7 linked regions of the Homo sapiens genome follow. The protein of the gene in region 3 interacts with the protein of the main gene of each other region in a pairwise test. Each region holds a gene or a part of one and is shown on either strand. Other genes may lie near its edges. The genes, in order: SERINC3, SLC15A4, DRD2, SMIM7, BCAP29, ABCA2 and GNB5.

Region 1 (4,186 bases), on a different chromosome or scaffold from region 3:
CATTCTGGGAGTTCTAAAATAACAGTGTTAGGTACACACACAGCCATTAACTGTTAAGGTCTGGATGAAAAGTAATCACAAATATTTACAACACAGGGCACAGATACCTTGCCCACAATGACACAGCTCATCACTGGCACCTGATTTTCAGTTCATGATCTTTAATGACTGCCTTGTATGGCAGAGTGGAAAGAACCAGGCTTTGGAGCTGGACAGATCTAAGTTTCAATCTTAGCTCCAACCTCCAACTGGTTAACAGGTCTCAGACAATTTATTAACCTCTCTGCAGTTCAGTTACTACATCTGTAAAAAGGGGATTATAATACACATCAAGTTTATAAAACGCCATTCAGTCTTTGAGAATTAGAAATACGGCTGGGCACAGTGGCTCACGCCTGTAAGCCCAGCACTTCAGGAGGCAAAGGCGGGCGGACCACCTGAGGTCACGAGTTCTAGACCAGCCTGGCCAACACGGTGAAACCCCATCTCTACTAAAAATACAAAAATTAGCCAGGCATGGTGGCAGGTGCCTATAATGCCAGCTACTAGGGAGGCTGAGGCAGGAGAATCACTTGAACCCGGGAGGGGGAGGTTGCAGTGAGCCGAGATCACGCCATTACACTCCAGCCTGGGTGACAAGAGTGAAACTCCATCTCCAAAAACAAAACAAAAAAAAAAAAAAAAAAAGGAGAGAATTAGAAACATAGGTAAAAGGTGGTCAGGAGTCAGAAGCAATAGAATATGTAAATCAGTAGCACATATATATTCACTGACTTTTGTACACTGTTTAAATTTATCAGGTACATGTTTATCTTTAAACAACAGAAAGAAAAAAGTGTGTGTGTACGTAGTATCTAGCATAGTGCTTCAACTATTTAACAGGTGTTCAATAAAAATCTAAGAACATGAAGCAAAGGAATTTAATAGAAGAAAATAAAAAGACAAGACCCCCTATCCCCTCCATGTTACAGCAATCTAACTGAAAATGACATTAAAACAATTTCACATGCATAATAGATCAGAAATGCATCTGAGCCACTCATTTACATATTCCATTGATTTCATCAGAATGGCTATATTAACTGCTGAAGGGAAGGAAGAGCCACACCATAATGTAACCAGTTAATCATAAATCTAACATACCCATTGTGTACTGCCGCTCGGAGATCTTTACTTGTTTTTACTTTGAACATGAGCAGAGAAAAGACAAAGAAAAAGATGGCCATGGCAAAGCTGATCCGATACACAGCTTTATAACCAACCAGCACATCACAATCTTTATCTGCATTTATATCAGCCTCATGGATTTTAAATCCCCCTTCACAAAATCCAGGAATCTGGAAAAAAGCAATTTCAATGTTACGAGAATATCTACATTTAGACAGAGACTCTAACCCACTGCAGGAAAGCCTGGATTTAGAAAATTAACTACTTCAACAACTGCAAGACTGACTATGGAATTTTTCTCTTTGTCTTCCAATTCATTTACAATCTTGTTACCAAACAGTATAAATAACATGCATTTTAAAAATAAAAATGCTCTCTCGGCTGGGCACGGTGGCTCACATCTGTAATCCCAGTATTTTGGGGGACCGAGGTGGGTGGATCACGAGGTCAGGAGTTCGAGACCACCCTGGCCAGCATGGTGAAAACCCTATCTCTACTAAAAATACAAAAAATTACCCGGGCATGGTGGTGCATGCTTATAATCCCAGCTACTCGGGAGGCTGAGGCAGGAGAATTGCTTGAACCAGGGAGGCGGAGGTTGCAGTGAGCCAAGATCATGTCACTGCACTCCAGCCTGGGCAACAGAGTGAGTCTTAGTTTCAAAAAAATATGGTCTCTCTTCTTTGCCCTTTTAGGATGAAGAGGCTGTGTGCCACTTTCCTGTGAGATTTTCCAGCTACGACTGAGTCCTTCCAAAGGTGAAGAACTAGTCCAGTTTAGATGCTTCGACCTTTAACACATAAGGAAAGAAAATGTTTTGGAGCCACCCTTTTAATGTTTTCTCTCAGTTGTTCGACTGGAGCCCAGATGTTCATTCTGTATTTCTGGAAAAGGACTAATGTCCTCATATTTCTGTGTTTTGACCACACCCCCATATAAGTAAAAAATCTCCAAATTACAACCAACTTGATTAACAACGACGAAATAAAACTAGAATTTTGCAGAATATAAAAATAAAAATAACCAATACCTTAAGGGCACTGTTACTTCTTACCTTCTTCAAGTAAGTTTCCATCTCTTTTCTCTGCATGATATAGGATACGACAGTGCTCAGGAGGAGAATGAAAGCATAAATGAGGCGAGTCACCGTGGAATTCTTACTGTTAGGACAGCAACTACACAGCAAACATGAGGCACCGCTGCAGAGGCATGGAACCTGGAATGAGCACACCATGGTCACCTGAGACCGCCTTCAGTATACTCCTTTATGACACAGATGTCGCAGAAGAGAAAGCGAGGCAAATCAGGCTTTATAGTTTTAACTCAGAGAATCATGGCTGGGAGGAAGTGGTTAAAAGTACGGGCTCTGGAGTAAATATTATTTCTGCCGCTTTTTACCCCAGCAAGTTACGTACTCTAACCCCATTTGACCATTTGTAAAATGAGCTCAATAATGGAATTTTCCTCCCTCAGACTCTGCTGTATTAAATGAGCACTCAACACTACCTAAAATGCATTAACAGTTCAATAAATGTTAATTATATTCTGAGAGCATCATTTGTTTTAAAATATGAGAAAAATATAAACCTAACTCCACTTGCTGCTTACTGCGAATCCAAGTTACCAAAGCTGATATTACAACATAAAGCAACATGCCGGGCGTGGTGGCTCACGCCTGTAATCCCAGCACTTTGGGAGGCCGAGGCGGGTGGATCACAAGGTCAGGAGATCGAGACCATCCTGGCTAACACGGTGAAACCCTGTCTCTACTAAAAATACAGAAAAAATTAGCCGGGTGTGGTGGCGGACGCCTGTAGTCCCAGCTACTCAGGAGGCTGAGGCAGGAGAATGGCATGAACCCAGGAGGCGGAGCTCACACTGAGCTGAGATTGCGCCACTGCACTCCAGCCTGGGCTACAGAGCGAGACTCCATCTCAAAAAAATAAAATAAAATAAAAAAATAAAGCAACACTACATGGAAACCCTCTGACAAATAATAACAGCAAGGGCCATTTAGCTCAATTCAAGAGGAACCAGGTTCCTCAGAAAGTTAAATACAGAATGACCATATGACCCAGAAAGTATATACCCGACCCCAATAGCTGTTTTGTTTGAAACTGCTATTAAAACAAAAGCTTGTACACGAATATTCACAGCACCACTATTTACAATCACCAAAATGTGGAAACAACCCACTGTCCATTAATTGATAAGTAAATATGGCCTAAGTAAAAATATGGTATATCTGGCTGGGTGCGGCAGCTCACACCTGTAATCCCAGCACTTTGGGAGGCTGAGGTGGGCAGGTCACCTGAGGTCAGGAGTTCAAGACCAGCCTGGCCAACATGATGAAATCCCATCTCTACTAAAAATACAAAAATTATCCGGGCGTGGTGGCTCATGCCTGTGGCCCCAACTACTCAGGAGGCTGAGGCAGGAGAATTGCTTGAACCCAGGAGGTGGAGGTTGCATTGAGCTGAAATCATGCCACTGCACTCCAGCCTGGGCAACAGAGTGAGACTTGGTCTATCTATACAATGGCTTATTCAGACATAATAGATAGATACATGATAGAACACAGGTGAACCCTGAAAACATCATGCAAAGTTATTTAAAAAGCCAGACATGAAAGGTCACATACTGTATTAGTGCATTTATATAATAAAATATCCAGAATAAGTGAATCTAGAGACAGAAGATTAGGGGTTGAAGGGAAGGGAAATGGGAGTGATGGTTTAATGGGTAAAGGATTTCCCTTTAGGGCGACGAACTAGACAGATGTGATGGCAGCAAAACATTGTGAATGTACTAAATGCCACTATACGCTTTTTTATTTTTTTTTTTTTGAGACAGTCTCACTCTGTTGCCCAGGCTGGAGTGCAGTGGCACAATCTCGGCTCACGGCAACCTCCACCTCCTGAGTTCAAGCAATTCTTGTGCTTTAGCCTCCCAAGTAGCTGGGACTACAGGTGTGCAATGCCACCCCCAGCTGATTTTTTTTTGTATTTTTTAGTAGAGA
Region 2 (4,186 bases), on a different chromosome or scaffold from region 3:
AAGTTTCAATCTACCACGTGGAAGGAATATTAGACACATTCGCTACGGCTCCAAGAGCATGAGTAAGACAAACACAGACAGGCCGCAGGCAGGCAGATGTGTGAGTGGGCCCGCAGAAGAATGTCCAGCAACCAGTGCCATGCCACAATGGGGTGCACGGCTCAGAGACACAGGACGCTCTGATGGCTGAGTGATCAGCCTCCCACCCAGCAGCCTCCAGGCATTTCTACGTTGATCAAAACATTCCATGAGGGGACTGACTACAAAAGGTCCCAGAGACTTCTCTGGAAGGATGGAAATAATCTATGCCTTGACTGCACTGGTGGTTACACAACCTGAGTAAGTTTGTCATAATTCACAAAACTGTACAGATATAAGGGGTAAATTTTACTATCTGTAAATTATTCCTCAATAAAGAGTAACACAAACACTTCTGAGCTCTCTTCTTGGGCTTAAGTTCTGGACTTTATTAACTGGCATCCAACATCACCAAACATGAGTCATAGTTGGCCAGTGACTTGGAGGGGTTCTGAGGACACAGGCCTTTCTGTTTTAACACCTCAGTTCATGGGACTTTGGTGCTAACACTGGGTAAGTCCCATGAGATCATCTGGTTACCCTCAGTGCATCTCGCCATTCTGCTACTGCACCTTCCTGTCAAGAGTTACAGACCTGACCGCCGTATGATGGACCTGACCGCCGTATGATGGACCTGACCGCCGTATGATGGACCTGACCGCTGTATGATGGACCTGACCGCCGTATGATGGACCTGACCGCTGTATGATGGAGCCCATGCTGACCTTTAGGTAAGAGGCAGTGGCTTACTTTTTAAAGAGCAGAGACAGGTACTGACAGCATAAGCAACTGCTTAGTTTTTCATTCAAATGTATTTCAAAGCTTTTTAAAATAAAAAGAAACATGTATAAAGCATGTCTTCTGTCTCCTCGATGTCCTCCACAAATTTCTACCTTTATAATCTGGCACCAAAGGAGCTTCCGTCTACACTAGCAGTGAGAGAAAGTGCAACGTGGGGTTAAAGCATGAGCTCTGGAATCAGGCCACTGGCCTGTCTTTAAGATGGGATAATAAGACCGCACCCGCCTCCTTGGGGAAATGCAGTGTTAAAGGAGAGAAGACATGTAAACCACTCAGCCCAGGCCCAGCACACAATAAGCACACAACAAACCGAAGCTAGGATGTTAATAAAGAGATCGATAAAGTCCTTTCAAACAGCCCAAGATGAGAACTAAGTGCTTACCCATTACTCTGGCGCTCTCCACTTCGCTTCTGGGAACAGCAGGAATACGTCAGTATCTTGAACATGTCGGTGAAGGCACTGCCATCAGGAGGCTTGGTGATGAAAACGCTCTGGCCACAGAGGAAGACCACAAAAGCAAGGCCGACGCAGACAGTGGGGATCGCATAACCAGTGACAAAGCTGACGTTCTGCTGAATATAGGCAATGCCACCTAACGACAGGATCGCTCCCAGGTTAATGCTCCAATAAAACCAATTAAAAAATCTCCTAGTGGCTTCCGGACCTCGATCTTTAACCTAAAATAACAGGGAGGAAAGACACTTGAAAATATATGACAGTCTTCAAGGATGAAAACCATATACGGTCAAGTGGTTAAAATTACCGTTGTCATCACAACCTTTAAGAAGCGCAACACAATCAAAATTGTGTTTACAGAAACATTCACGGATCTCAACAAAAAGCACACCCCACGCTTTTAATTACTACAGTTGCTAGGTAGGTTTCACTTAATTACACTAAATTCCAACAAATGCTAGAGAGTTTTTCCAAGTATATTCTGCTGTAGAATTTTCTAAGTACCTGAACCACTTGCCTTGGAATTACCTGGAATGCTCTTTAAAAACAGAGTCCGCTGGGCATGGTGGCTCACGCCTATAATCCTAGCACTTTGGGAGGCTGAGGCGTGTGGATCACTTGAGGTATGGAGTTCGAGACCAGCCTGGCCAACATGGTGAAACACCGTCTCTACTAAAAATACAAAAATTAGCCAGGCATGGTGGTGGGCACCTGTAATCCCAGCTACTTGGGAGGCTGAGGCAGGAGAATCGCTTGAATCCAGGACATGGAGGTTGCAGTGAACCGAGACTGTGCCACTGTACCTGGTTGACAAGAGTGAAACTCCATCTCAAACAAACAAACAAACAAAAAACAAACACAGTCACAGGACCCACGCTCCAGACCTACTGAATCACGGTCTCTGGGGCCCAGGCCCAGGAATCTGCATTTCAAGCAACTTCCCAGGTGACTTCTACTCACAGGTAAGTTTTAGAACCAATGTTATAAAGCTCCATGCCTTACTGAGCTACATGCAAGTACCATGAGGCACCCCACAAATATGCTTAGGCCCCAAAGAGAGACATTTGTTCAGTGAGGCCAAGTCACCACCCACACCAATTGTATCTGGTCTCCTGAGAATCAGAGATCTCAGTAAACTTGAAGCAAAGAGGAAATTATAGACTAAAGATAAAACCACATGCTATTTTTAGATTAGACAGGCTATCAATGGAATCGGAGAAATTCTGATAAGGGTGGGATTTCCAAAAGGCTCAAAAATCACTGACTTCCTGGACTCAAACAAAAGCACTGAGGTAATAACGCAACATCTAGGCTTATGGAGTTCACGAGGCTACTTCAATGGAGCCCAAGCGGTGGGAACAGGTCATTTGGGGGCAGACACACCAGAAGCCTTCTCTGCCCACCTGGATTTTTACGTCTAAATAAGATACTGTGCAAATGAACCCTGTACTAGACAGAGACATTTCTAGTGAGTTTCATTTCATAAATTTATTTTTAACAAACTTATGAGAGGCTGATACTGGATCTCATAAAAAGACTCTCTTGCTGTCTTAAAAACTTCTACTGTCTCATTCTTAAGTCACAGGTTATGAAAGAGTTAGAAAATTCTTATTCTAATAATAGATCTAGTTTCTGGATCCATAGAACAATCTGCTCTACTGAATAACACATTCTCAATGGGGCCAAAACAACCAATTACGGTTGGGCATGGTGGCTCAGGTCTGGAATCCCAGCACTTTGGGAAGCCAGGGCAGGCAGACCGCTTGGGTCTAGGAGTTTGAGAGCAGCCTGGGAACACAGACAGACCCCCATCTCTACAAAAAATTACAAACATCAGCCAGGTGCGGTGGTGTGCGCCTACAGTCCCAGCTACCTGCGAGACTGAGGTGGGAGGATCCCTTGAACTGGGGAGGAGGTGGCAGTGAGCTGTGATGGCACCACTGCACTCCTGCCTAAGCGACAGAGGCCCTGTCTCAAAAGAAAAAAAAAGATATGGTATGTAATAAGCACATGCATCTTTTTAGCAGTCATATATTTGATATGGTATTTTAAACTCTATTTTTTAAAGATTAAATCAGAGGAGTAAAATTTATAGTTAAAATTGTGTGTTCCTCTCTAAAGGAAATAGAGCAAAAGAAAAAAAATTGTGTGCTCCTCAAAAAGAGATTTGTTTGAAGTCCAAATGATTAAGCATGGCCACTATGGTGGCAGGTAATTAATTATATATAGTAACACCACTTCAAACGAAAAATCTAAATTTAAAAGAAAATCACTTATTCTCAAGAGTTTAAACTTTTCTCTTATCTATTACAATACTGAACAGAGGTCCTAGACCAAATGCAGACATCTCTACTGAATAAAGAGTTTGAGGTGAGAACTTCACAGACATCTAAGACACTTCTTCACTAGGACACAATGCATTTAAATATTGCTCAACAGTGGACACCAATTCTCATGCTATACTAGACATGGACCAGGAAGAAAAATGAAAAATGTGAGCAGAGAAATGGTTACTGAGAAAACAAAACTAGAAGTGCGAAAAAATAACAAACAAAAAGTAATTTTTTGACAAGCATAAAAGAGGCCAGTAAACATAGTATATAAACTTAATAGAGGCACAAATGATTTCCTAACTGAAATGTACTCGGACCTTCCCATTACCCACAGTGACACTGCACACACCTTCCCACGGTCTCACTCGGGCCTTCCCGTTACCCACAGTGACACTGCACATATCTTCCCACAGTCTCAGACTTATGTCCTCTTCAGATGAAGCATGAAAATATCAGCATTTGATTACTCTGGGAAAATCCTAACCTTAAAATGCCATTCATCCTCATTTCCTGTGTA
Region 3 (4,186 bases):
CTCAAAAAAATTTCTCATGTAAGAATAATGCACCTTGGGTTATATATTTAGCCAATCTCCATTTTAAAAAAAGAACAAGAAATTGGGACCATCATGGCAAATACAAGGTGCCATGTGTTATGTGGCTTTGCATTTTCCCTCAACAAGCTCCAGAGTGGACAAAGAACTCACCAGGCTTCTTTGGAGCCAGAACCAGCCCAGCGTAACTGGAGCAGCACTGAGAACCTTTCCTCACTCCGCTACCATGAACACAAGCTCCAGCCAGGATGGAGAAGCTACTCACTTGTGTATTCTTTTGGGATGCCCCTTGGAGCCCAACAATCTGTGCAGCCCGGAGACAGAAGGACAAAAGGGAGGGATGGGCTGGAGCTGCAGCAGGGAAGCCTGGGGACCAGCAGGTTTTCTCAGGCCCCTTGAGAAAATACCAGCTTAGAAATGCTGGGAAGGCCCTGTATTGCTATCCACTCTACAATGCACTTCCCCCTGCCCCCACCATTTTAATGTCTCTGAAATCAGAATGCATTTTACAATGGATGACATCTTGGAGCTCTACTGGGGTTGGATGGCATTTTTTTCTTTCCTAGTGATATATAAAATAGTGGTGCATCTTCATTCGATTTTGTCTTAGAGTCTATGAAATGTGGTGATTAGTATGACAGTCATCGGCTATAGCAGCTGGGCTGGGAGAGCTGTATCTTCCAGGCCAGCTGCTACCTCATCTCAAGGGTCACTTGAGTTTGTCCTACAGCCAGGGCCCAGGGACAGGCTTTGTCTTTTCCTTCCTTTACTTCCTCCCAAGGAGTTGGTGGCTGCATCTTGAAATCCATCTCCCTTCATCTAGCCACCTATTTTTCAGGATGGGCCATAGGAGGCAGTGGGCCCAGGAGGACCTCAGACCCTAGTGAGCTGCATTTGAACAGCAACAGTCACTTCATCTTGCTGAGCCGTTGGCTTGTGGTCTGATTGCTTGTTTCATTTCATTCTTTTGCTTGGTTTGATTTTTAAAGTTGACATTCTCAAGGGCTTACCTGTGCCTGGCACATGGCCATGAGTCATCTTACTTAATACTCACAATTGTTGTTATCTCTATTTTGTGTATGGGAAAACTGGGCTCAGGAAAGCCAAATAATCTGGCTGAGGCCCCAAAGTTAGTAAATGGTAGAGTTGGGACTTGAACCCAGGTTTTTTAGTCCTCAACTCGAATGTTATACTAGCACCTCTCAGGCTAGAGTACCTTCTCTGTGGCAGTGGATTTGCTGATGTCTGAATTCCTGCTCAGCTTGATGTTTACATGGTGAGAGCCAGCTAGGCTGCCCCTGCTTGTGAGAGGTGAAAGCCCCAAGTAGATAAGGTGCTGAAGACACGATAGAAACCAGGACTGACACCAGGTGTTAAAAGATAGCCCTGTACTGGCCGGGTGCGGTGGCTCACGCCTGTAATCCCAGCACTCTGGGAGGCCGAGGCAGGCAGATAATGAGGTCAGGAGATCGAGACCATCCTGACTAACACGGTGAAACCCCGTCTCTACTAAAAATACAAAAAAATTAGCTGGACATGGTGGCGGGCACCTGTAGTCCTGGCTACTCGGGAGGCTGAGGCAGGAGAATGGCGTGAATCCAGGAGGCGGAGCTTGCAGTGAGCCGAGATAGCCCCACTGCACTCCAGCCCGGGTGACAGAGCAAGACTCCATCTCAATAACAAAAAAACCCCCAAACAAGCAAACAGACAAAAAGATAGCCCTGTACCAAGGTACTTATAGGGGTTACAGGTATTTAGGCATTTGCCATGTTTTCCCTTTTTTTTCCTATGGTGTAAATATACTACGTTTGTATTAGCAACAAAAAGCAACGAGAACAACCAATAATAAATAATAGATTAGAAAATCAAATGTGTGAGGCCTTTCTCAGAACTTGGGTACAGGGACTCTCCCTTACCCTGCAGAAGTAACCAGCACTCCAGAGAATGAATGCTCACCCTCAACCCCACCTGACCTGCAGTGCTCACATTTGCCATCTACATTGTACTCATAATTTTAAATCCTAGACTAGTGCCTGTAATCCCAGCACTTTGGGAGGCCAAGGCAGGAGTATCTCTTGAGGCCAGGAGTGTGAGACCAGCCTGGGCAACATAGTGAGACCCCCATCTCTACAAAACATTTTTAAAAATTAGCCAGGCATGGTGGCACATGCCTGTATTTCCAGCTACTCAGGAGGCTGAGGTGGTAGGATCACTTGAGGCCAGGAGTTGAGGCTGCAGTGAGCTATGATTGTGCCACTGCACTCCAGCCTGGGTGGCAAAGTGGGATTCTGTCTCTATTAAAAAAAAATTAAATCCCAGTTTACATCCTCCCTCCTCCAGGAAGTTCTCCACAAACGCCCCAGCCACACACATGTGCATATGCTCCTGAACATCAACTGTAGTGGACACGGTGGAGTGCCACCCAGATCCCCCTGCAGGACCACAGCCCTCATCCCCATCTACTGGGAGTGTTGGCAACTGACAGTTTTTGGCAATTGCCCACTGCTGAGGAGAGATGCCTCTTTCAAGGCCTCGCTGCTTTCCCTGGGACAGCCAGAAGCTGTGACATCTATGAGAGGGGATTAAAGGCCCTACCCTGTTGCCCTCATTTAGGCAACTGGCAGGGTGCCCTGTGGGGTCACCTGATGCCTTTCTTGTGACTTCTCCCTCTGGCCTGTCCTGCTTCCTCACTTCTTTGCACATCTTGATCCTGAGAGCATTCCCCTGTACATTTCCTGCAGGCTGATTTCCTCTTCAGAGTCTACTTCTAGGGACCTGTATTAGTCTGCTCTGGCTGCTATGACAAAATTCCACAGATTGGGTGGATTGAACAACAGAAATCTGTTTCCTCATAGTTCTGGAGGCTGGGACGTCCCAGATCAAGGTGTCAACAGGGCTGATTTTGCTTAAGGCCTCTCTCCATGGCTAGCAGATGGCCGCCTTCTTGCTGCATTCCCACTTGGTCTCTCCTCTGTGCGCGCATCCCTGATGTCTCTTTTTATGTCCAAAGCTCCTCTTATAAGGACTCCAGTCAGATTGGGTTAGGGCCCACCCTAAGCGTCTCATTTTAACATAATCAACTCTTTAAAGGCCCTGTATCCTAATACAGTCACATTCTGAGGTACTGGGGGTTAGGACTTCAACATATACATTTTGTGGGTTGGGGGAAGAGCATAGTGCAGACTGTAACAGGACCCAACATGCAGCACCTATGGCACCCTTGGGGTGCCTTACTTTTTCATCACTTGTTAATCTGGTAGCCTATGTTAGCAGGTGCCTTTCAAGTGGGAAGGGGTTTTCTTCCCAGTTGCACTAACAGAGCCTTTGATTCAGTTCAGCAAACATCTGTTGAATACGTACTGCCCACAAACCAGAGTCAAGAGTTGGGAAAGAACAAGATAGTATGGTTTTTATTTGTTCATTCCAAGAACAAGAGGAGGAATGAGCAAGACATGTTGTAACTCTTGTGATGTCTACACCCCAGTGAAAAAAAGAGACTCCTAAACAGGTGTCTCCTGCAGCACTGGGGTGTGTTTCAGTGCTGCAGGACCCTGAGGAGGGTGGGTGATGGCTCAGGCAGGAGGATATGGGTGGATTCTAAGACAGGAGGATTCTAGGCAAGACTCACTTTGAAGGATGCATAGGGACTGGAAAAGCAGAGGGAAGGGAAGTGAACAGAAGAGTTTTCCAAATCCCTTTCTTATTAAAGTAGGGATAATAATTAGACAAGATCAAGCATGTTCCAGGTAGTATGGCCATAGACAGGGATAATAATTAAAAGCCTCCGAGGGTTGTTTTGAGGATAAATGAGACAGTATATCCAAAAAACTTAGCAAACTATCAAACCCTTTACAAGTATATGATGCTATCATCAGCAGCAGGGAGTGGGGGGAGAAGAAGAGAGCGATGGTCAGGATGGGGGCAGTAAGTGTGCCTCACACGCCTCAGGCCCCTGACACTGCTTTGCACAGTGCTTTATGCCCAGCAGGTTCAATAAATGCCGATTGAGTAAATGAATGTCAGAAGCAGCCCCAGGCACCTGATCAATACATACATGCAGGCCTCCCGCTGTGGGCTCCAAATGGGAAGAGGGCTCAGTTGGTTTTGCAGAATACAGCATCAATATGACATATGCTTCATTACCTTAGAACAGGAAGATTTGCTGCGT
Region 4 (4,186 bases), on a different chromosome or scaffold from region 3:
TCTTCCAGGTGACAACATCCGGGAATTCTTGCTGAGCCTCAGATACTTTCGAATCTTCATCGCCCTGTGGAACATCTTCATGATGTTCTGCATGATTGTGTGAGTCCAGCCTGCCCTTTCCTTTCACTGTCGTCTCTTAGTCTCCTTCTCCAGGGTGACCCACCTGATGGTCATTCTCTGTCTTTTCAGTCATCACTCTTGTATCCTGGTTTCTGTTTTCTTTATTTTTTGTTTTGTTTGAGATGGAATCTTGCTCTGTCGCCTAAACTGGAGTGCAGTGGTGCGATCTGGGCTCACTGCAACCTCGGCCTCTTAGGTCTAAGCGATTCTCCTGCCTCAGCCTCCCGAGTAACTGGGACTACAGGTGCGTGCCACCACACACGGCTGATTTTTTGTATTTTTAGTAGAGACGGGGTTCCATCGTGTTATCCAGGATGGTCTTGATCTCCTGACCTTGTGATTCGTCCACCTTGGGCTCCCAAAGTGCTGGGATTACAGGAGTGAGCCACTGTGCACGGCCCTGTTTTTTTTGTTTGTTTGTTTTTGTTTTTGAGATCGAGTCTTGCTCTGTTGCCCAGGCTGGAGTGCAGTGGCGTGATCTCGGCTCACTGCAACCTCTGCCTCCCTGCTTCAAGCGATTCTCCTGCCTCAGCCTCCCGAGTAGCTGGGATTACAGGTGCCCACCACCACACCTGGCTAATTTTTGTATTTTTACAAGAGACAGGGTTTCATCATGTTGGTCAGGCTGGTCTTGAACTCCTGACCTCATGTGATCCACCTGCCTCGGCCTCCCAAAGTGCTGAGATTACAGATGTGAGCTACCACACCCGGCCCTGCTTTCTGTTTTCAAAATAAGTAAGTGAGGGAACCAGTATCTGAAGGGGTTAAACTCTGTCCCTGTGTCCCCACCAAACCGGGCTGGAACTTTTATTGGAACATGGAGTTCTCCAGCCCCCGGCTATGCCCGGCACCTCTGCAGGGGCTGCCAGGAGATGCCGTCCCTGAGCCCATGGCCCTGTCACGTCTCACCAGTTCTTCTGCATCTGCCGAGGTGGAAAATATGGTTTAAATGTCCAGCACACTGCCAGATCCTGCTCCACCTGGGCTGGAAGCCAGTAGAAATGTATTCAGACTTTATTGTTTTAAATTCTGGCTTTTCATTTTCTCATTAGGCTGAGAAAACTCAAGCAGATTGCCTTTCCATCTAGCACTGGGGCCATAACTCTGATACTACTGTTAACGAATTGTGAGATTTGCTGTAAATGGATTTAGGAAAAGACACGACGGGAGAATCTGGTGTTCTTGGCCTCTGTGGGTCCATCCCTGTATGCTTCCCCCAGAAAGAGAGAGGACAAAAAGTTGTCTGTCCTGAGTGATTGAGACTCCGAATGTGGGGTTGCTGTCCAGTCTGCGTGCCACCCCAGTGGCTGTTTGCGAAGATGCTTCCAGGACATAGGAGATCTGGGGAGGATGGCATTTCACCCTCATCACAAGGACCGTGATGTATTCCCAGGAAGACTGTTGCCAAGGTATCCTACCTGGCAGAGAGGATCTGAGAGCATGTATGAGACTTGCCTAGGAACAAAGAAGGCTTGTGAGGAGATCAAGGAACTTACATGAAATTGTAGGAACGGCCAGGGGCAGTGGCTCAGGCCTGTAATCCCAGTACTTTGGGAGGCCAAGGTGGGAGAATTGCTTGAGCCCAGGAGTTCAAGACCAGCCTGGGCAGCATGGTGAAACCCTGTCTTTACCAAAAATAAAAAAATTAGCCGAGTGTAGTGGCGCCTGCCTATAGTTCCAGCTCCTCGGGAGGCTGAGGTGGGAGAATCACTTGAGCCCTGGAGGCAGAGGTTGCAGTGAGCTGAGATCCTGCCACTGCACTCCAGCCTGGGCAACAGAAGAAGACCCTGTCTCCAAACAAATAATAATAAATCAAGACCTAAAGGACAAGAAGACGTTTGCCATTTGCAGAGCTGGAGAAAAGCATGGTGGCACAGGAAGTGGCATGTGCAAAGGTCCTGGGGCAGGGAAGAAGTCAGCATTCTTCCCTCATTCTCGTCTTTGCAAAGGTCCTGGGACAGGGAAGAAATCAGCATGCTTCCCTCATTCTCGTCTTTGCAAAGGTCCTGGGGAAGGGAAGAAGTCAGCATGCTTCCCTCATTCTCGTCTTTGCAAAGGTCCTGGGGCAGGGAAGAAGTCACTATGCTTCTATGCTTCTCTCATTCTCGTCTTTGCAAAGGTCCTGGGGCAGGGAAGAAGTCAGCATGCTTCTCATTCTCATCTTTGCAAAGGTCCTGGGGCAGGGAAGAAGTCAGCATGCTTCTCATTCTCATCTTTGCAAAGGTCCTGGGGCAGGGAAGAAGTCAGCATGCTTCTCTCATTCTCGTCTTTGCAAAGGTCCTGGGGCAGGGAAGAAGTCAGCATGGTTCTCATTCTCATCTTTGCAAAGGTCCTGGGGCAGGGAAGAAGTCAGTGTGCTTCTCTCATTCTCGTCTTTCCTGTGCACCTGCTTCATCATCCTCTCCTGTTTGACCAGCATCTTCACTCCCTCATCTGCTAGTCTGTGACCAGAACAGCAGCCTCGGGCATCCTCCCAGCTCAACTTTCCAAGACCTGCATAGTCAGTAGCCCAGGGTCCTGATTTTGTTTCCTGGGGCAGAGTCTGATTGACCCACCTTGGTGTCACTCTGGTCCATTTGGGGTGGGGGTTCTTGATTCTGCCATAACCACTTAGGTCAAGGGTCATCAGACCACAGGCCAAATCTCCCCACTGCCTGTTTTTGTGAATGAACTTCGCAAAAGTTCATGTGTGTGGCTGCTTCTGTGTCACAGCGGTGGAGTTGAGTTGTGTGACAGAGATGACATGGCTTGCAGAGCCAGAACTGTTAGTAAACAGTCACCCATTACAGAGAAAATGTGCCAACCTCTGACCCAGGCCAACTCTTTCACTGGGGGCCATGGGTGAGAGAAGATTCTCTCAAGAAAGGGCCCTCTCAGGGAGGTAGTGACTGGCTTTCCCAGGATATTTAAAAACTGGAAATCACCTAAGTGTCCAAGAACAGGGGAAGGATCAGGTAACTTGAAGGATGCCCATGTGACTGGCTGTCACAATACCATCACTGATGATGTGCCAGAAGGTTCTGTCTGCATGGGGAAATGAAACGTTCTGAAAGTGAAGAAGGCCGGAGGGTACTATGTCTGTGCAGCCTAACTTCAGCTGTGTAATGTGCATGCAGTAACCATGGATAAACCTTAAATGAGTGCCTTAAGTATGGGAGTGAAACACTGTTTAGCCAGGGAGTTGGAAGGATCCACTCCAGATGGGGTAGAGAGGTGACCCTGTGGCAGTTGCTGAGGAAATTGGCAGAGCCTGGGCATGGTTCAATATTCCGTGTGCCTATTTCTTCTTTTTTTTTTTTTTTTTGAGGTGGAGTCTTGCTCTGTCACCCAGACTGGAGTGCAGTGGCACAGTCTCAGCTCACTGCATCCTGCATCTCCCAGGTTCAAGTGATTCTCCTGCCTCAGCCTCCCAAGGAGCTGAGACTACAGGCACGCACCACCACACTTGGCTAATTTTTCTATTTTTGGTAGAGATGAGATTTCATCCTGTTGACCAGGCTGGTCTCGAACTCCTGACCTCAAATGATTCACCTGCCTCGGCCTCCCAAAGTGCTGGGATTATAGGCGTGAGCCACCGTGCCCAATCTCCCTGTGCCCACTCTTGTGTTGTTTGAGCTTTGGAAAGTTTAAGAAGTTATGAAAAGTCTGAAATAGGGGAGAAACGTCCCTGAGTATTTAGGGATCAGTAGCACTGTCATCTATAACTTACATTGAAACACATCAAAAATACGGATAAATGGTTAGATAGATGGATAGGTATGTGGTACAGCAAAGTGTTAATTGCAGAATGTAGGTGGTGGCAGTGTGTTTCAACACAACTCTTCTGTGTGTTGAAATTTTCATAAAATAACAAGAGGAAAAGTTAGGGAGAAAATGAACCATGGAGAGGTTTTACAAGTAAAAGGCGGAAGTCTGTCTTCACAATCCGGTATTTTATAGAATATTCACAGGATTATGCAGCCGCTATCTCTATCCAATTTCAGAACATTTTCATCAACACAGAAAGAAACCGCGTCCCCATTGGCAGTCACGCCCCATTTCCCCTCCCTTAGTCCCTGGCAACCAC
Region 5 (4,186 bases), on a different chromosome or scaffold from region 3:
CACTGGAAAGAAGTGGTTCCCCTGCATCTGAGACTTCCCAGAACTGAAAGCATCAAAGGAGCAGCTATCTGAACCTTTCCAGTAGCAGCTGCTATGCACTAGTCGGAGGAGTGTATGCCACCACAGATCAAATCCCATGTTAACAAACTTATGCCAGTGGAAATTTCAGTATAACCAAATATTTTGAAAATCTCAATCATTTAAAGTAATAATATGTAATAAAATGCTAGTGTAGTAAGAGAAATGGGATAGTCTCTTGGAATTGATTGTAATGGGATATGACATCTGTCATTGTCAATAGGCTGAATTTTAGTCATCTTAGAGACAGAAAATGTAAAGGATAATAGTTTGCAGTGTAGTTAGAGATGAGAAACAATAAAATGATGGTAAGTACTAGATGAATAATTTTAAAAATGCTATAGTAATTCAAAATTTGCTACTAGTGTCCATTTATAGAGCACCTACTTTGAGCATGAAAAGTTCCCGGGTACTGTAGACGGAATGACATAAAGGTCGCCTCTGCCTAAAGTCCATTATTTAAAAGTTTGGTCAGTTTTTCTAAAACTGCTTTCCATTTTTAACAAGCTTATATTCGTAAAAGCCAAAAGTACTGTTTTCTTTTGTTCTGTAATAGATGCTGTGAGAGAAGTAAGGAAATATTCCTCAGTTCATACCATTGAGAAGAGCTCCACCAGCAGACCTGATGCCTATGAACACACACAGATGAAACTTTTTAGGTCTCAAAGAAATCTTTACATTTCTGGATTTTCCCTATTTTTTTGGCTGTAAGTAAAAAATAATAATAGAAGCACAATTTAAAAACATGACTTATGCTTTCCTTTCTCATTTTGTCCACCTTTACTGTAGATTTTTTTTTTTTTTAAGAGAGACAACCTTTCGCTCTGTTGCCCAGGCTGCAGTGCAGTGGTGCCTTCATAGCTCACTGTAACTTCAAACTCCTGGGTTCAAGTGATCCTGCCTCTTCAACCTCTCATTTCTAGGACTACAGGCGGCACACCACCATGTAGGGCTAATTTTTAAATTTTTTGTAGAGATGGGGTCTCACTGTGTTGCCCAGACTGGTCTCAAACTCCTGGCCTCAAGTGATCCTCCCACCTCAGCCTCCCAAAGTACGGAGATTACAGTCACTGTACCCAGCCTACTGTAGTTTTGTTTGTTTGTTTGTTTGTTTGTTTTTTAAGATGGAGTCTCGCTTTGTCGCCCAGACTGGAGTGCAGTGGCGCGATCTCGGCTCACTGCAAGCTCCACCTCCTGGGTTCACACCATTCTCCTGCCTCAGCCTCCTGAGTAGCTGGGAGTACAGGCGCCTGCCACTGTGCCCTGCTAATTTTTTTGTATTTTCAGTAGAGACAGGGTTTCACTGGGTTAGCCAGGATGGTCTCGATCTCCTGACCTCATGATCCTCCCGCCTCGGCCTCCCAAAGTGCTGGGATTACAGATGTGAGCCAACGCGCCCGGCCTGTAGATTTTTTTATAACATCTTTGTAAAAGAATTCAGATGATATACCCAAATAACAAACAGTAGTTAACAGCTTGTAGGTTTGCCCAGTCCATAAGGCCCTGAATGATTAGGCTCCTGCCTCTCTTTGGAGCCTTGTCTCATACGTGTCTCTGAGATGTACAATACATTCCACCCTTACAGACCTTCACCATTTATTCATTCATTCCATCTTGCAACAGATATTGATTGAGTTCTGTGGTGTACCTAACTCTTTCCCATTTTAGGGTCTTTACACAAGCTCTTCCTTTTGCCAGAACACTCTTTTCTTTCCTCATTTCCTGGCTAACTCTTACTCATCCATTAGCCTCTTTCTCAAAGCCTTCTGTGGCCATCACTACCCACAAAGTAGGTAGGTCTTCTCTTACAGGTGCTCAAAGAATGTATATATACTTCATTTTCTAGTGTCATTCATGGTTGTAATTAAATACTGTTTTAACTTTTGCTTCCACAACTAGGAGCTAAACCCCTGAGGGCATGGACTTTGCTGTTTTCCGCTGTGTCTGCAGTGCCTGGCAGAGTGTCTTAACACTTAGCAGTTCCTGAGTAAAGGAATGTCTGCTGAATGAATAATTGAAGATAGTCATCACTATTTCTTCTAACAATGGCAGTTACACATAAACGGATGTGAATGAGCTGTTCTTCGGCTTGTTTGACCTTACACAATGTTCCTTAAATAGCAGAATTTGAACTGGGCCAAAAAAAATAATTCTCCTACTGGCCCTGTCACACTGTCTGAAATTTTCCTGTTTCTATTCCTCCAAGCTAAAGCCTTCTACAGGAAAACAAATAAGTACCACTGAACCTGTATTCTAAATGCTGGTCTTCTAACAAAGATTCCAAAGGAATGAGACACGGGCCTGTTTTTACTAAGAGACTTGAATTAAAAAAAGAATAATGGGTTCTGCCTAAACATTATCTGCCACCACCACACCTATATCTAATGGGGAGTAATTTGGCAATGACTGTTTTAAAATAAGTTTCTGGTGATTGGCCAGTAATACATTATTCTGGTTTTTTTTCTTAGAGTTTTGAGACGTCTGGTTACGCTTATTACTCAACTGGCAAAAGAACTGTCAAACAAAGGTGTACTTAAAACTCAAGCAGAAAATACTAACAAGGCTGCCAAAAAATTTATGGAAGAAAACGAAAAACTAAAAAGGGTATTTAATTTTCTTTGTAAAAATTAAATGTTGTTGGTGTTCCCGAGGAGTAATGTATTTGTTTTCAGCATCAAAAAGAGCATTTTTATATTTTATAAGCAGAAAATGACCATAATTAACAATATTTTATGTAATGATTATTTCAAGAATAGTTTTACTGTTCTTTAGAAATGCTTGTTCACACTAATATTTTTACTATTATTTAGATTTGCTTTTTCTCCATAGTGGATTTATACCATTGGACCTATTTTCTGTGATTTAAGGAGAAAATAGTATTCTGGGAATATGAATTTTAATTCCTTCATTACCGTTAAGTTTACTTTATAATCTAAAGCAAGTCTTTATAACTGTTTCTATTTCTTTTTCAGTTAAAGTATTTTTAAGCCTAGATTTTCGTTTTCTTTTAAATGATTGGTTTATAGAAAGCAGAGAAACGTCATTGATGCTAGATTGATAATTGCACATAATATTTGAAATCTTTAATGTTATTCCTTTATTTTCTATCTTTTGATCTCATTTCACAGTGGCAAAAATAAAAACACAGTCATTAAAGCTTTGATTGATAGTGTTAACTAAACTCAAAAGCACGCAGCCTTGTATTTATAGAACAACTGATCATGTACATATCTTAATTTAAAATTATACACATCATTTTGGAGTAATGATTTGTAACCATCAGAACACTGCTTTTTTTCCTCTTCAATTGTTTTTCTCTTATTCTTTAGCTCTAAGAAAATGGAAAGTGTTATTTTTTTCATACATACCATACTTAATACACTTAAATTAGTCTTGCCCTTTTAAAAAAAGCACCTTCCTCAAAATACTTTTGCAACTTTTCTCTTGGAATTGTTTTCAGAACCATTTACCCATGCAAGGAAACTTATGTCATGATTACCAATTCCTTGACCCTGCGTGATTTATTCTTTCTGTTTGTTTGTTTTCCTCTCCTTTGTTTCCATACTGTCCTGATTTGCTGCTTCCTGCATAGCTGTGACCCAATCAGAGGAGGCACAGATATGCTGGGCTAAAGCCAGTACACAGTGGGGAGAAAGTCTTTGAGCAGCACATAAAAGCAGCTGTCAGTGCCCAGAGTATAACTAATTGACCAATAAAGTGACCAACAAAGGCCATAAGTGAGAATATAAAAGATGACGTCTGTTTCAAGGTACTTCATGTAGGTTTTGAAAAATAAGCTAAGGAAAGATAAGCTTGTGAAAACACCCCCTTTGTTTTGTCCTTCCTTCCTTTCTTTCCTTTCCTCTCCTTCCCTCCCTTCCTCCCCAGACTGATCTCAAACTTTTGGCCTCAAGCAGTCTTCCCACCTTGGCCTCCAGAAGTGCTGGGATTATAGGCAAGAGTTACCGCGCCCAGCCATACCTCTTCATTCTCTATCAGAGACACATTATCCAGTGGAAACTGCATTACCCTGAGATCCGAGAGACTTAGGTGCTAGTTCCAACATGTGACCTAGCACAAATCACCTATGTTAATGGGCCTCAAAGTT
Region 6 (4,186 bases), on a different chromosome or scaffold from region 3:
CAGACCGTCTGAACCTTGCCCCCACCATCTGAGCCACGCCCCCACTCTCTGAGCCATGCCCCCACCATCTGAGCCACGCCCCCACACCTACATCGGAGCCACGCCCCCACCATCTGAGCCACGCCCCCACTCTCTGAGCCACGCCCCCACCATCTAAGCCACGCCCCCACACGTCCATCGGAGCCACGCCCCCACCATCTGAGCCACGCCCCCCACACCCCATCTGAGCCATTCCCCCACACCTCCTAGGTCTACCACCTGCTCTTTGGTCCCTCATCTGCCCTGGATTCACAGTCTGGCCTCCACAAGGGTCAGGAGCCCTGGAGCCGCCTAGGGGGCAATCCCCTGTTCCGGATGGAGGTGAGGGCATCCATGTGTGGGATGGGCCTGGAGTGCTGCCTGCCTCTGGGGGTGCTTCTGCTCCGTGGGTGAGGAAAGGGCCCCTTTGGTGACTTGGAGCTCCTCCTGGGAGAGGGGGAGGGTCCCAGGGGTCTATGGCAGGCATGAGGGGTAGAGGCATGTCGTGGGACCCAGGCAGCCCCAGAGCCAGCCAGTGGGTGGGGCAGGGTGAGGCCTGAGGCCCTAGTGGTTGGGGACAAAGTCCTTGCCGTGGCTCCACGGACCCCTGTGCCCATCCCAGGAGCTGCTGCTGGCTCCTGCCCTCCTGGAGCAGCTCACCTGCACGCCGGGCTCGGGGGAGCTGGGCCGGATCCTCACTGTGCCTGAGAGTCAGAAGGGAGCCCTGCAGGGCTACCGGGATGCTGTCTGCAGTGGGCAGGCTGCTGCGCGTGCCAGGCGCTTCTCTGGGCTGTCTGCTGAGCTCCGGAACCAGCTGGACGTGGCCAAGGTCTCCCAGCAGGTGAGGCCCTGCCTGCCCACTGCCCGCTGCGCTGCTTGCTGCCTGAGTTGAAGGAGGGGCTGGGACCGCTTGGAGAGCTCAGGGCTCCTGGGCCCAGGCTGTGCGTGGGATGCTGCCTGTGGGTGGGTATCCAATGGCACCATGGCTGGTGCCCCACTCCTGCTCACCATCCCAGCTCCTGTCCTGGGCTCCCGTTACCCAGGCTGCAGACTCCCTCCCAGCACCCCTAGCTTGTGTCTCCCTGCTGCTGTCTCCCTGCTCCACTCCTGACCTATCACCCACCTGCAGTCCATCTCACCCCGCACTGCCCACGTGCCTGTTTCCCCTCAGCTGGGCCTGGATGCCCCCAACGGCTCGGACTCCTCGCCACAGGCGCCACCCCCACGGAGGCTGCAGGCGCTTCTGGGGGACCTGCTGGATGCCCAGAAGGTTCTGCAGGATGTGGATGTCCTGTCGGCCCTGGCCCTGCTACTGCCCCAGGGTGCCTGCACTGGCCGGACCCCCGGACCCCCAGCCAGTGGTGCGGGTGGGGCGGCCAATGGCACTGGGGCAGGGGCAGTCATGGGCCCCAACGCCACCGCTGAGGAGGGCGCACCCTCTGCTGCAGCACTGGCCACCCCGGACACGCTGCAGGGCCAGTGCTCAGCCTTCGTACAGCTCTGGGCCGGCCTGCAGCCCATCTTGTGTGGCAACAACCGGTAGGTGGGCGGCAGGGGAATGGGGGTGAGGAGGACAGCCAGGGGCAGGGCGTGAGCCCTGAATCTAGGCTCTGGCTCTGGAGGTCTCATTTGGCGCCCTGCCCTGTGCCCCGAAGTCCTGCCCCATCCCGATGCCCCTCCCACTCTCGCGGCCCTGCCCCCTAACGGCCTGGCCCGGCCCCCTGTCCCCTACCCCAGCACCATTGAACCCGAGGCGCTGCGGCGGGGCAACATGAGCTCCCTGGGCTTCACGAGCAAGGAGCAGCGGAACCTGGGCCTCCTCGTGCACCTCATGACCAGCAACCCCAAAATCCTGTACGCGCCTGCGGGCTCTGAGGTCGACCGCGTCATCCTCAAGGTGCACGGGTCTGGGACGCTCCATGTTTGACAGGCAGAGTGGGAGGGGGTCTCTGCAGGCCTGGGACCCCTGGGCAGAGGGTGTCGGCAGAATTGACACGGGAGGGGTACGGGGTGCAGCTTCGGATGGGACACAGGCTCTGCAGGTGGGGGACCAGGGGGTCGCTTTTCCTTTCGGGAGCTCCAGGGGCTGCTGTGGGAAGGCACTGGAGAGTCTGCTCTGGCAGGGTCCTCCGGCTGGGGGTGGCCGGTCCAGGGCAGTGCTGGTGGAGGAGGGGTGTGTCCAGAGACCTTCCAGAGTGTCTCGTGGGCGGGCAGCTGGGCAGTTTGGGTTCTGGGTGAGGGGTCCTGTCTGGAACAAGCAGAGGCCAGGGCTGGACATTGGCCTGGGAGGGGAGGGCCTGTGGACGAGGCCAATCCTGGGTGTAGAGGGGGTCCCTAGGATGAGGGTGGGACAGATGAGGGTGGAGCATTGGGTGCTTAAGGGACACATGGAGACAGGTCCAGCAAAGGAGCTGGTGGGCACAGCTGGGCAGTTGGGGGTCCGGAGGCCGTGCTGCCCTGGGAGTGGAGGGCAAAGCAGGTTTCACCTGAGCGCCGCAGAAAGGAGTGGAGAGCCCGGGCGTGGGACTCACGCTTGAAATCCCAGCACTTTGGGAAGCCATGGTGGGAGGATCGCTTGAGCTCAGGAGTTTGAGACAAGCCCGAGCAACATAGCGGAAGCCCGTCTCTACCAAAAATACAAAATTAGCCAGGCGTGGTGGTGGGCACCTGTAATCCCAGCTACTTGGAGGGCTGAGGCGGGAGGATCCCTTGAGCCTGGGAGGTGGAGGCTGCAGTGAGCTGGGACTGCACCACTGCACTCCAGCGTGGGTGACTGAGACCCTGTCTCAGGAAAAAAAAAAAAAAAAAGGTGGGGAGGGTTAGTTGTTGGCAATGGACCAGCCACTGGGGAGGTGAGTGGGGTGAGAGCCCCCAAGTCGGTGGGGGTCCGTCCAGAAACTCCATGCCCCTGCCTCACCCCCTGCAGGCCAACGAGACTTTTGCTTTTGTGGGCAACGTGACTCACTATGCCCAGGTCTGGCTCAACATCTCGGCGGAGATCCGCAGCTTCCTGGAGCAGGGCAGGCTGCAGCAACACCTGCGCTGGCTGCAGCAGGTGCCAAGGGTGCCCGCGAGGGAGGCGGCTGTGGGTGGTGTGGGGAGCCCCTCTCTGCCCGGCTCGGCAGGCGCAGGTCCCCCTCTGAGCCGCCCCTCCACCCCAAGTATGTAGCAGAGCTGCGGCTGCACCCCGAGGCACTGAACCTGTCACTGGATGAGCTGCCGCCGGCCCTGAGACAGGACAACTTCTCGCTGCCCAGTGGCATGGCCCTCCTGCAGCAGCTGGATACCATTGACAACGCGGCCTGCGGCTGGATCCAGTTCATGTCCAAGGTGAGCGGTGGGGCCTCCGAGCCAACCCACGACACCCCCTGCCTCGCACATGCCCACGGCGGGCTCCAGCGATGCCCCTCCCGCTAGGTGAGCGTGGACATCTTCAAGGGCTTCCCCGACGAGGAGAGCATTGTCAACTACACCCTCAACCAGGCCTACCAGGACAACGTCACTGTTTTTGCCAGTGAGCTGCCCTCCCCGCCCCGCCCCAGCCCCCCACAGACCTCTTCCTCCCCAGCCCAGCCCCACCCGTCCCCCTGTGCCCTCCCACTCCTTGGCCGCGCCCTGGCCTTCCCCCCTCACCCGCCACTTCCCCTCCCCACCCCTGCCCCTTCCAAACGGCCCCAACCCACAACCCGCCCCCTCCCTGCACCTCCCCACTTCTGCCCACCTTTCCCCTGGGGCCCCCACCCCAGCCCTGTCCCACCTTTCCCTGGACCCTCCTGTCCCCGCCCCCACACCTTGGCCCCGCCCCCGTGCCTTGCTTTCCCCCCCACCACGCCTTGGTCCCGCCCCTGCATCTTGGCCCCGCCCCAACCTCCCGGCCCCAGGTGTGATCTTCCAGACCCGGAAGGACGGCTCGCTCCCGCCTCACGTGCACTACAAGATCCGCCAGAACTCCAGCTTCACCGAGAAAACCAACGAGATCCGCCGCGCCTACTGGCGGCCTGGGCCCAATACTGGCGGCCGCTTCTACTTCCTCTACGGCTTCGTCTGGATCCAGGGTGAGGAGCAGGCCCGGAAGACCGGCTGGAGGATTCATGGGGGAGGACAGGTGTGAGGACGAGAGGGCCTGCCCGGCACCTGATGGCTGCCCCCACCCACAGACATGATGGAG
Region 7 (4,186 bases), on a different chromosome or scaffold from region 3:
CACACCAATAACTAGGAACATCAATAGGATTTGGACCCAGGCAGTCAGACACCAGAGTCCACACCCTGAACCTCTGTACTATACTGCCTCACCAAGCCCAGGCATACTGAAAAGTGTGTGTTATATAAGCTGATTCTATGGCATCTCATCTGTCACAGGACCCTCGCTTGACTGTTTTAAGACAGATAACTGAATTTTTTTTAAGTGGCACTTACAATTTCTGCACATGTTGAACAGTAGCTGAGTTGTTGAGACTTCTTGAAAACTGGTCTCAGAGCTCGTTGTTTGAAACATTTGTCACATGAGCCAAATACATTAACGAGAAAGGTCTGATCACACATCTTTTACCCAAGATAAAGCTGAAAAAAAGTGAAAAGAAGGGAGGGGGTGTGAGAAAAGCCAATGGTTTTAACTTTCTAAAATCTCTTCTTGCTTGTACCGTGGTAGCTATTCAGACGTCTACATGTGGGATAGAGTATATGCAGTTAATTTATAACCTTTCAACTATTACAACATGCTGGGTCAATACAACTCATTTAATCAGTGAGAAAGCATCAGACAATAGGTTTTCTGAACTTAACACGTTTAACCAGTTTTTTGGCAGCTGGCAGACCTGCGTCAGGCAGGATTGATCCTTGCAGCACAATATCAATTCTGTGGGGTTTCACAATGGAAAACGTTTTTGTAATGGATGCTATAACTTAAAACTTTTAAAAACATTCCTCCCCTCAGGGTGAACTTTTAAAGATAAGGGTCAGCAAATGATGGAGCCTGACCCCAACCAAAGCCAGGGGCCTGAGTAAGTGTGGTGTGGGTTCCGTGCAAGGCAAGCACTCACTTATTAAACATTTGACAGCCAAAGACCCAGGGTCCCTGCCTGTTCACAAGGAAGTCAACAGACAGGCCCAGGCCGCTGCAGGGAGGCAGCACAAGCATCTAGTGGTTACAGGGACAGGCTCTGGCTGCCTGGTCCCGGCCCACCACTGAGGCTAGTTAGCTGACCTCTCTGAAGCTTGGTTTTGCTAATCTGTCAAGTGGAGATCTTAAAATCTACCCTTCTGGGGTTGTCAAGAGAATGATAAGAGTCAGTGCGTAAAGCACTTAGCTCAAGGTCGGTAATACAGGGAGTGTGCCAGCGAGGTCATGCTGCCCTGAGTGGCAGCAATAGCGGGAACAGTGGCTGCCTTGGGAAGGAGGGACATGGGTAGGGGCAGGGTGAGGCTGGGGATGCCAAAGAAAGCATAAGAGGAGCCTATGGCAACGGTTCAGACAAGACGCGAGGAAGTCATGGACTAAAGGTGAGAAAGTAACTTTTATCTGAGGAATGCAAGCCCTTTTAAATTATCAGGCCCAGAGAATCATGAAAATGAGACAGCAATAACGTTCTAGTCCCCACTTTGAGCTGTGTATTCATCTTTTTATTATTATTATTATTATTATTATTATTATTATTATTATTATTTGGGACAGTATCTCTCTGTCTCCCAGGCTGGAGTGCAGTGGCACAATCTTGGCTCACTGCAACCTCGTTCTCCTGGGTTTAAGCGATTTTCCTGCCTCAGCCTCCCAAGTAGTTGGGATTACAGGCATAAGACACCATGCCAGGCTAATTTTTGTATTTTTAGTAGAGGCAGGGTTTCACCATGTTGGCCAGGCTGGTCTCAAACTCCTGACCTCAAGTTATCCACCCACCTCGGCCTCCCGAAGTGCTGGGATTACAGACATGAGCCACCACACCTGGCCTCATCTCTTGAAACTGCTTGCCATTGGCACAAGTAGCTAAAAAATAACCTAATAATGCCACACTGGACACTATAACCCACACCCTGTAGTGTAACAATGTATAACCAGTCGCTAATCAATGTTATTTCTGTAAACTAATGAGAATTCCTAACAACTTTGTATCAGCCCACTCCCGGTCCCTCTTTTTTGCCTTTTTAAAAAAACTGCTTGTAACAAAGGCCAAACAGAGATAATGTCCAAGGTTACTTGGGTCTGGGCCTTCCAGGAATCTGTCCTCACTTTGGCTCAAGTAAACTCCTTAAGTCTTGGTTTGTGCTACAGCCTCTTCCTTTTAGGCCCACAAAGCAATGTAGTGGGATGGACTTGGACCATGCTTAGGAAAGAGAGAAGGAGCTGGATTTGGCATGTGGAGTTGAGGAGAGGGAGATGTGGGTGCTGTGGCCTAGATTTCTTTGGGAGACCGAGGGGTTATGTTGCCATTGCTGGAGATGAGGACAAAGCGGTTAAGGGGGAAGGGAGCAGCCAGTGTGGCCCTGTCAATTTGGTAGGTGTTCTAGAGTGAGCCCCGTCAAGATTCAAAGAAATGAACCCCTGAACATAAAGATAATTGGGGGCGCTGGTCTGAACATTTCAACAGAGTCAAATCTGAGAGGGATGCATTTATGGGGGAGGTGACAGTTGGGGACATTTCTGATGAGGAACGTCTGCCATGTGGAGCCCACCCTGGGGCTGGAGAGATAATGGGGGCTCATGAGTTGGGCTGAGCTCTTACAGCAAAGGGGCAGTCAGCACAGTTCGAGACCTCTGGGCAACAAAGGTGTACAGGGCATCCCTTAGGGACAACAGCTCGCAAGGAAACCAGCTACCAACTGCCACAGAGTGCCCAGCCCTCGCCTCTCCCTGGGAGGGAGGCAGGACATCTGTGTTACAGCTGAGGAAAAGCAGGGGGATTAAACAAGTTCAAGGTCAGCGGCAGAGCTGAGTCTGTAAGTAGCATGAATACACACTTTGGAACCCTATTTCCAAGCTAGCATGGTCAAGCTGCATGGTTTTGTCACAAAAGGTGAGTTAACAAAAAAGGGCCTGCCCTCCAGAGCCTGGCCCATGGTGGGGCTTGGTAACTGTTGCATCCCACTCCCCAGCCCTGTAAAGGCAGCCAGTAACAAGGTTGGGCTGAACACTCCCAGTAATAGCATTAGGACGGTGAGCCACAGGCTGTTAAGCAAGGGAGCAGTGTCATCCACGTGGATTATTCCAGCATTTGTGCTTCCAGAAGTAGGTCAGAGAGAGAGAGAGAAGGGACGGCAGGAAAACAAACTAGGTTAAGAGATTGCTATGTTCTGGAGAAGAGGAAATGAGCTGCGGACAGAGGAGCAGCTATGGGAATGGAAGGCGAGAGGAACCTATGGCACCAAGTGGAGGAGGAATAGAAGGATGGCTGGGAGGCACGGGAGAGAAAGACAAGTTGAAAAGATAGCCGATATTCCATATCTAGATAGAGGCAATGTTTTTCTTCTCAAACTAAATTTTGAATTTTTTCAAATTATAAAAGATGCTGATAATGTTCATTATAAATAACTGGAAACAGGGCCAGGTGTGGTGGCTCATGCCTGTAATCCCAGCACTTTGGGAGGCCAAGGCGGGTGGATCACTTGAGGCCAGGAATTTGAGACCAGCCTGGCCAACATAAGGAAACCTCATCTCTACTAAAAATACAAAAATTAGCCTGGCGTTGTGGTGCGCACCTGTAATCCCAGCTACTCGGGAGGCTGAGGCAGGAGAATTACTTGAAGCCGGGAAGCAGATGTTGCAGTAAGCTGAGATCATGCCACTGCACTCCAGCCTGGGTGACAGAGTGAGACTCCATCTCAAAGAAAATTAAAAATTAAAAATAAATAAATAAATAAGTGGAAACAGAAGGACACAAAAAGGGGAAAGTAAATCGCCCACATGCCCTACACCAACAACTGACCTGTTGGCATTTTATGTTTTCCTCTAGTATCTTTATAAGTATATATGTGTGTACTTTTTAACAAATTGGAATTATATGCCATATACTACTTTATATAATAGCATTTTCATCTTCACGTCATTGCATATTACTGGAAAACACCATTTTTTAACGGAGACTCCAATTTTTGAGTCCTATGGGCCTTAAGTCGTATCACATAGCTAGCATTTTAGACCTCACTGGTTAAACATGGGCAAGCTACAAACTAAATTTAAAGCATTTTTAAACTGTAAATATTATACATATGCATTGTAGAAAGTTTGGGGGAAAAAAAGATATAAGGAAGAAGATAATCACCTATAATCCCACCACTCAGAGAAACTTCTTTTTACATTTTGGTGTAGCAAGAATAGATTTGAGACCACTGAGGTCATACTGTTCATGTATACTGATTACATTTCTGTATCTTGATGTTTTTCACTTAGTATTTGT

What was found.
Region 1: the proteins of DRD2 (region 3) and SERINC3 interact in a two-hybrid assay, tested with the Homo sapiens proteins (one large-scale study listed by BioGRID and IntAct).
Region 2: the proteins of DRD2 (region 3) and SLC15A4 interact in a two-hybrid assay, tested with the Homo sapiens proteins (one large-scale study listed by BioGRID and IntAct).
Region 4: the proteins of DRD2 (region 3) and SMIM7 interact in a two-hybrid assay, tested with the Homo sapiens proteins (one large-scale study listed by BioGRID and IntAct).
Region 5: the proteins of DRD2 (region 3) and BCAP29 interact in a two-hybrid assay, tested with the Homo sapiens proteins (one large-scale study listed by BioGRID and IntAct).
Region 6: the proteins of DRD2 (region 3) and ABCA2 interact in a two-hybrid assay, tested with the Homo sapiens proteins (one large-scale study listed by BioGRID and IntAct).
Region 7: the proteins of DRD2 (region 3) and GNB5 interact in a protein complementation assay, tested with the Homo sapiens proteins (one study listed by BioGRID).

Annotation. Positions count from the first base shown.
Region 1 is NC_000020.11:44,511,658-44,515,843, forward strand, and holds part of SERINC3 (serine incorporator 3), read right to left. Parts: intron 2,384-4,186; coding exon 2,222-2,383; intron 1,338-2,221; coding exon 1,144-1,337; intron 1-1,143.
Region 2 is NC_000012.12:128,813,514-128,817,699, forward strand, and holds part of SLC15A4 (solute carrier family 15 member 4), read right to left. Parts: exon of another isoform or gene 1,865-4,186; intron 1,558-1,864; coding exon 1,262-1,557; intron 1-1,261. UniProt on the Homo sapiens protein: Proton-coupled amino-acid transporter that mediates the transmembrane transport of L-histidine and some di- and tripeptides from inside the lysosome to the cytosol, and plays a key role in innate immune response.
Region 3 is NC_000011.10:113,426,770-113,430,955, reverse strand, and holds part of DRD2 (D(2) dopamine receptor), read left to right. Parts: intron 1-4,186. UniProt on the Homo sapiens protein: Dopamine receptor whose activity is mediated by G proteins which inhibit adenylyl cyclase. Positively regulates postnatal regression of retinal hyaloid vessels via suppression of VEGFR2/KDR activity, downstream of OPN5.
Region 4 is NC_000019.10:16,649,948-16,654,133, reverse strand, and holds part of SMIM7 (small integral membrane protein 7 isoform 2 precursor), read left to right. Parts: intron 1-8; coding exon 9-99; intron 100-1,172; coding exon of another isoform or gene 1,173-1,272; exon of another isoform or gene 1,273-1,778; intron 1,779-1,861; exon of another isoform or gene 1,862-2,239; intron 2,240-2,291; exon of another isoform or gene 2,292-4,186.
Region 5 is NC_000007.14:107,593,321-107,597,506, forward strand, and holds part of BCAP29 (B-cell receptor-associated protein 29), read left to right. Parts: intron 1-634; coding exon 635-785; intron 786-1,977; exon of another isoform or gene 1,978-2,546; coding exon 2,547-2,682; intron 2,683-4,186. Other genes in the region: DUS4L-BCAP29 protein, read left to right, coding at 635-785, 2,547-2,682. UniProt on the Homo sapiens protein: May play a role in anterograde transport of membrane proteins from the endoplasmic reticulum to the Golgi. May be involved in CASP8-mediated apoptosis.
Region 6 is NC_000009.12:137,018,065-137,022,250, reverse strand, and holds part of ABCA2 (ATP-binding cassette sub-family A member 2), read left to right. Parts: intron 1-249; coding exon 250-360; intron 361-640; coding exon 641-859; intron 860-1,189; coding exon 1,190-1,557; intron 1,558-1,755; coding exon 1,756-1,915; intron 1,916-2,944; coding exon 2,945-3,073; intron 3,074-3,180; coding exon 3,181-3,348; intron 3,349-3,435; coding exon 3,436-3,532; intron 3,533-3,899; coding exon 3,900-4,073; intron 4,074-4,175; coding exon 4,176-4,186. UniProt on the Homo sapiens protein: Probable lipid transporter that modulates cholesterol sequestration in the late endosome/lysosome by regulating the intracellular sphingolipid metabolism, in turn participates in cholesterol homeostasis.
Region 7 is NC_000015.10:52,184,336-52,188,521, forward strand, and holds part of GNB5 (guanine nucleotide-binding protein subunit beta-5), read right to left. Parts: intron 360-4,186; 5' UTR 342-359; coding exon 216-341; intron 1-215. UniProt on the Homo sapiens protein: Enhances GTPase-activating protein (GAP) activity of regulator of G protein signaling (RGS) proteins, such as RGS7 and RGS9, hence involved in the termination of the signaling initiated by the G protein coupled receptors (GPCRs) by accelerating the GTP hydrolysis on the G-alpha subunits, thereby promoting their inactivation.